2 linked regions of the Homo sapiens genome follow. The protein of the gene in region 1 purifies or fractionates together with the protein of each later gene. This does not show direct contact. Each region holds a gene or a part of one and is shown in the gene's direction. Other genes may lie near its edges.

Region 1 (3,500 bases):
CCTTAAGCTGATAAGCAACTTCAGCAAAGTCTCAGGATACAAAATCAATGTGCAAAAATCACAAGCATTCCTATACACCAAGAACAGACAAAAAGAGAGCCAAATCATGAGTGAACTCCGATTCACAATTGCTTCAAAGAGAATAAAATACCTAGAAATACAACTTACAAGGGATGTGAAGGACCTCTTCAAGGAGAACTACAAACCACTGCTCAAGGAAATAAGGGAGGACACAAACAAATGGAAAAACATTCCATGCTCATGGATAGGAAGAATCAATATCCTGAAAATGGCCATACTGCCCAAAGTAATTGATAGATTCAATGCCGTCCCCATCAAGCTACCACTGACTTTCTTCACAGGAAAAAACTACTTTAAATTTCATATGGAACCAAAAAAGAGTTTGTATAGCCAAGACAATCCCAAGCAAAAAGAACAAAGCTGGAGGCATCACGCTACCTGACTTTAAACTATACTACAATGTTGTAGTAACCAAAACAGCATGGTACTGGTACCAAAACAGATATATAGACCAATGGAACAGAACAGAGGCCTCAGAAATAACACCACACATCTACAACCATCTGATCTTTGACAAACCTGACAAAAACAAGCCATGGGGAAAGGATTCCCTATTTAATAAATGGTGTTGGGAAAACTGGCTAGCCATATGCAGAAAACTGAAATTGGGTTCTCACTCATAGGTGGGAATTGAACAATGAAAACACTTGGACACAGGGTGGGGAACATCACACACCAGGGCCTGTCGTGGAGTTGGGGGGAGAGGGGAAGGATAGCATTAGGAGATATACCTAATGTAAATGATGAGTTAACGGGTGAAGCATACCAACATGGCACATGTATACATATGTAACAAACCTGCACGTTGTGCACATGTACCCTAGAACTTAAAGTATAATAATAAATAAATAAATAAATAAACATAAAAATAAAATAAAAAAAGAAAACTGAAATTGGACCCCTTCCTTACACCTTATACAAAAGTTAAATCAAGATGGATTAAAGACTTAGACATAAGACCTAAAACCATAAAAACCCTAGAAGAAAACCCAGGCAATACCATTCAGGACATAGGCATGAGCAAAGACTTCATGACTAAAACACCAAAAGCAATGGTAATAAAAGCAAAAATTGACAAATGGGATCTAATTAAACTAAAGAACTTCTGCACAGCAAAAGAAACTATCATCAGAGTGAACAGGCAACCTACAGAATGGGAGAAAATTTTTGCAACCTACTCATCTGACAAAGGGCTAATATCCAGAATCTACAAGGAAGTTAAACAAATTTACAAGAAAAAAACAAACAACCCCATCAAAAAGTGGGCAAAGGATACAAATAGACACTTCTCAAAAGAAAACATTTATGCAGCCAAAAGACACATGAAAAAAAGCTCATCATCACTGGTCGTTAGAGAAATGCAAATCAAAACCACAATGAGATACCGTCTCATGCCAGTTAGAATGGCAATGATTAAAAAGTTAGGTAACAACAGATGCTGGAGAGGATGTGGAGAAATAGGAATGCTTTTACACTGTTAGTGGGAGTGTAAATTAGTTCAATCATTGTGGGAGACAGTGTGATGATTCCTCAAGGATCTAGAACCAGAAATACCATTTGGCCCAGCAATCCCATTACTGGGTATATACCCAAAGGATTAGAAATCATTCTACTATAAAGACACATGTACACATATGTTTATTGAGGCACTGTTCACAGTAGCAAAGACTTGAACCAACCCAAATGCCCATCAATGATAGACTGGATAAAGAAAATGTGGCACATATACACCATGGAATTCTATGCAGCCATTAAACAGGATGAGTTCATGTCCTTTGCAGGGACATGGATGAAGCCGGAAACCGTCATTCTCAGCAAACTAACACAAGAACAGAAAACCAAAAACTGAATGTTCTCGCTCATAAGTGGGAATTAAACAATGAAAACACATGGACACAGGGAGAGGAACATCACACACTGGGGCCTGTCAGTGGATGGGGGACTAAGGGAGGGATAGCATTAGGAGAAATACTTAATGTAGATGACGGATTGATGGGTGCAGCAAACCACTATGGCACGTGTATACCTATGTACCTATGTAACAAACCTTCAGGTTTTGCACATGTGTCCCAGAACTTAAAGTATAATTTAAAAAATAAAAATAAATAAAATAATTAGAACAAAGTCCAGCAGTATAGAGAATTAGGTAATAATCAATAGGAACAGACAAATCTAATGTTGAAATAGAATAATAGATCCAGAAATTAATTCTAAAGTCTTATTTATGGTTCTTTAATGTGTCCTTGATATTAGCTTGCAATTAGCTCCATCAAGTGATAGTATCCAACGTAAAATGGGCTTAGCAATTTCTTGCTTCTCATGCTGCTTTTATATCTCTCTTCTTTCACATTCTTGGAGTCCCCAACAACAGGGCAGAGGCTGAAGGGCACAGATCTTTTGTGTCGTATGGCTTGGCCTCCATTGAAGTAGGTGAGGGTGACCATCCCTGGTACGGAAAGACAGGTCCGGGCAGGCCACAGTCTGGCTCTCCTGCCTGGCTTCCTGGGAATAATTGAGCAATTGCTCTGTACCAGGCGGGGTTCTGAATGCTTCCACGTCCCAATTTCAATCACTTCTGCAAGGTGACGCAGCTAGGAAAGATGTGACTCAGGCCACTCTGGCATCCAGGACTCACCTCCTCTTCTGACCTCTCGTCAGCCTGCTGTATTAGCTGGGCCGCCCTTCCCATGTTGACCTCCTCCCATATCTGAGCGTTGGCCTCACAGGCAGCGTCATGAAGCTGCCACCATCCCTGTCCCCCTTTGGTTCAGGCCACAGGGATGCCTGGAGCTGGGAACGGCCCTGCGTAGCACTGACTGCAGAGTCTTCAGTGCGTGTGTCTCTGTCTCCTTTACTGAACTGTGAGCGCCTAAGGAGGGGCCTTCCATCTGCTAGTTTATCCCTGGAATGTATCTCAATGCTTGGCAGAGGATAAGCGTTACATGTTGGATACATTAATTGATCCTAAGATTCTAAGCACTAAATTTTACGAGAAGTAGCAAAAATGACCTGAATGTAGTCGCACTGTATCTTTTCAATGATCCAAACAGCTGACTCCCTGGGCTTACGCCTTCATAACGCTGGAACCCCCTCCCGCCCGCTTTGTTCCTCTCCCTCTTGCAGCAGATGGGATCAGAGCGGATGGAGATGCGGAAGCGGCAGATGCCCGCCGCCCAGGACACACCAGGCGCCGCCCCAGGCCAGCCCGGAGCGGGGAGTCGCGGGTCCAACGCATGCTGCTTCTGCTGGTGCTGCTGTTGTAGCTGCTCGTGGTAAGGTTTGGGGCTTTTTAATGAATGTGCTCCTGACTGGGAAGTGTAATGTGCTCCTGACTGGGACGTGGCACCCCTGAAAGTGGTGGCAGCTTATGGTTAATTCAATAAGTGTTTTTTAAGCAACTACTATATGCCTGACACACA
Region 2 (3,500 bases), on another chromosome or scaffold:
CCTTGATAGTTCCTCCTCTTTCTCCTTTTCTTCCTCCTCCTCTTCCTCTTCTTTCTCCTCATCATCACTCTTGTCAATCAGGGATGCTGCTGTATCTCTTATGTCAAGCCCTGTGCCTTGCATTTGGTAGGTACTCAATAAATACTTGTTGAATGGATGAATGCTGCATATTGGAACTTAAGTTCACTGGGCACAGTGGCTCACACCTGTAATCCCAGCATTTTGGGAGGCCAAGGCAGGTGGATCACTTGAGGTCAAGAGTTCAAGACCAGCTTGGCCAACGTGGTGAAACCCCATCTCTACTAAAAGTAGAAAAATTAGCCGGGCACGGTGATGCACGTCTATAATCCCAGCAACTCAGGAGGCTGAGGCACGAGAATTGCTTGATCCTGGGAGGCGGAGGCTGCAGTGAGCCCCTGCACTCCAGCCTGGGCAACAGAATGAGACTGTCTCAAAAAAAAAAAAAAAAAAAAAAAAAGGAAGTTAAGTTCAAGTCCAGCCCCTTATAAGTTACATTGCCATGGCAAGTTATTTGATCTCTCTAGGCTTCAGTTTCCTCATCTGTGAAATGGTATCATAAGGCCTCTTGCAGAATTCTCATTGTGATTTTCAATAAAGTATCTAAAGTGTATTACCCAGTGCTTAGCAGGTCTTCAACAAGGAGAATTTCTGTGCTTTTATCATTGTAGCTCATATTTTATCATTGTGGGAGTATGTAGGCTTCTCACTTTTCTCCTGTCTCTGGCTCTCTTTGCTTAGGGCAGCATCTCATCACGGCAGTTGCTGACCATCTATTTAAGCTGAAGACAACATCATGGTGAGTGGGAGGCATAAGACTAACTGTAGGCAGGCCCATCCCAGCACTGGGAGGGAGGCGGAGGTGGGAGAATTGCTTGAGCCGGGGAGATTAAGGCTGTGGTGAGCTGTGATTGCCACCAAATGGCAGCATGGGTGACAGCGAGCTTGTCTTAAAAAAAAAAAAAAAAAAGGCCAGGCGCAGTGGCTCACGCTTGTAATCCCAGCACTTTGGGAGGCCGAGGCGGGCGGATCACGAGGTCAGGAGATCGAGACCATCCTGGCTAACACGGTGAAACCCCGTCTCTACTAAAAATACAAAAAATTAGCCGGGCGTGGTGGCGGGCGCCTGTAGTCCCAGCTACTCGGGAGGCTGAGGCAGGTGAATGGCGTGAACCCGGGAGGCGGAGCTTGCAGTGAGCCGAGATCGCGCCACTGCACTCCAGCCTGGGCGACAGAGCGAGACTCCGTCTCAAAAAAAAAAAAAAAAAAAAAAAAAGTGGTGAGAGGGTATGCTTGTTCCAGTTTTTAGAGGAAAAGCTTTCAGCTTTTTCTTGTTCAGTAAGATATGTTATCTGTGGCCACTGTACTTCTGACAGGGAGTTAGGGAGATTTCGGAGTGCGATTGAGCTGGACACCCCCTCTATGACTGCAGAGCAAGTAGCTGCCATTGAGCAGAGCGTCAATGAAAAAATCAGAGATCGGCTGCCTGTGAATGTCCGAGAACTGAGCCTGGATGATCCTGAGGTGGAGCAGGTAAGGGTAGAGCCAGAGGGATGGTTTCTGCGGAATGATTCCTCATCAGATTCAGACAGTCCCTCCCCTCTCCTTGAGTCCAGGTGAGTGGCCGGGGTTTGCCTGATGATCATGCTGGGCCCATTCGGGTTGTTAACATCGAGGGCGTTGATTCCAACATGTGCTGTGGGACCCATGTGAGCAATCTCAGTGACCTTCAGGTAAGTGAGGAACGGCTGTGGAGTGGCTGAGAAGAGGGATTGGGGGAGAGGGGATCACATGGGGCTGGGAGTGGGAGAGGGGGATAATCGAGGAGTCCTAAGTGAAATCTCCCCTTCACTGTTTCAGAGCTGAGGAACAGATAGGTTTCTCCTGCCTTCAGGTTCTAGGATCCGCTGTGGTTTATGCATGTGCACACGTGTGTGTGTGTGTTACCCCCTTGCCTCATGTAGGTCATTAAGATTCTGGGCACTGAGAAGGGGAAAAAGAACAGAACCAACCTGATATTTCTGTCTGGGAACCGGGTGCTGAAGTGGATGGAGAGAAGTCATGGAACTGAAAAAGCACTGACTGCTCTGCTTAAGTATGCCTGTTTCAGTACCTTCGATTACCTCCCATTTCTGAGATTTTCGACATAATCTCTTACCTCTGGGAGATAAGATGCAATCGTAAATGATAAAGTGCGGCCAGGCGTGGTGGCCCACATCTGTAATCCCAGCACTTTGGGAGGCCGAGGTGGGCGGATCACGAGGTCAGGAGATCAAGACCTTCCTGGCTAACACCGTGAAACCCCGTCTCTACTAAAAATACAAAAAGAACTTAGCCAGGCATGGTGGTGGGCGCCTGTAGTCCCAGCTACTCGAGAGGCTGAGGCAGGAGAATGGCGTGAACCCGGGAGGTGGAGCTTGCAGTGAGCCAAGATCGTTCCACTGCACTCCAGCCTGGGCGATAGAGCAAGACTCTGTCTCAAAAAAAAAAAAAAAAAAAAGATCAAGTGCTTTGGATAGTAAATCAGAACCACGAAAAGTGGTTAATTCCTTTGTATGTTTTCTCCCAGTTGCCTAAGAGACCTCCTCAGAATATCTCCTGGTCCCTGACTGCAGGGAGGCACCATAGCAAGAAGGAAATTATTGATTTATGTCCCCAACATCAGAAACGACTGGGAAGCTGCGCAGGTCTCCTCTGACCTTTCTCTTTCAGGTGTGGAGCAGAGGATCATGTGGAAGCAGTGAAAAAGCTCCAGAACTCCACCAAGATCCTGCAGAAGGTGATTTATTCCATGGAGGGTAGAGAGGGCATGGGCCCTGCCTAGGATAGGCTCTGCAGACTTGGTCTTCTGCCTAAACAGATGTGTAGTTTGTCAAAGTGGGAGTGAGGGGAGAATGAGGTGGAGGGAAGCTGATACTCTCTATTGTTATCCTTTCCATTTATCTACTGAGTTACCATATCCATTTCAGAATAACCTGAATCTGCTCAGAGACCTGGCTGTGCACATTGCCCATAGCCTCAGGAACAGTCCAGACTGGGGAGGTGTGGTCATATTACACAGGTGAGAAATTAGGAGCTGGACACAAGGAAGGGGAACTGTGTTGGGCTTAGGGCTCAGTGTCTTCTCTATATGCAATGTACAGTGGGAGGTGGATTGCTCACTGGTATTCTCAAGGTTGAGTAGATCCTAAGAAATATGTTACTGGCCGGGCGCGGTGGCTCACGCCTGTAATCCCAGCACTTTGGGAGGCTGAGGCGGGTGGATCACAAGGTCAGGAGTTCGAAACCAGCCTGGCCAGCATGGTGAAACCCCTTCTCTACTAAAAGTACAAAAATTAGCTAGGCATGGTAGTACGCGCCTGTAGTCCCAGCTACTCAGGAGGCTGAGGCAGGAGAATCACTTGAACCCGGGAGGCAGAGGTTGTGGTGAGTGGAGATCACGCCACAGCACTCCGGCCTGGACCAACAGAGTGAGACCCCAT

The links.
Region 2: the proteins of RGS20 (region 1) and AARSD1 purify together in Homo sapiens (affinity purification with mass spectrometry, with the first as the bait; 2 studies listed by BioGRID). This does not show direct contact.

Annotation. Positions count from the first base shown.
Region 1 is NC_000008.11:53,936,372-53,939,871, forward strand, and holds part of RGS20 (regulator of G-protein signaling 20), read left to right. Parts: intron 1-3,204; coding exon 3,205-3,353; intron 3,354-3,500. UniProt on the Homo sapiens protein: Inhibits signal transduction by increasing the GTPase activity of G protein alpha subunits thereby driving them into their inactive GDP-bound form.
Region 2 is NC_000017.11:42,954,455-42,957,954, reverse strand, and holds part of AARSD1 (alanyl-tRNA editing protein Aarsd1), read left to right. Parts: intron 1-759; coding exon 760-817; intron 818-1,394; coding exon 1,395-1,551; intron 1,552-1,634; coding exon 1,635-1,751; intron 1,752-1,982; coding exon 1,983-2,113; intron 2,114-2,730; coding exon 2,731-2,797; intron 2,798-2,987; coding exon 2,988-3,079; intron 3,080-3,500. Other genes in the region: PTGES3L-AARSD1 protein, read left to right, coding at 760-817, 1,395-1,551, 1,635-1,751, 1,983-2,113, 2,731-2,797, 2,988-3,079. UniProt on the Homo sapiens protein: Functions in trans to edit the amino acid moiety from incorrectly charged tRNA(Ala).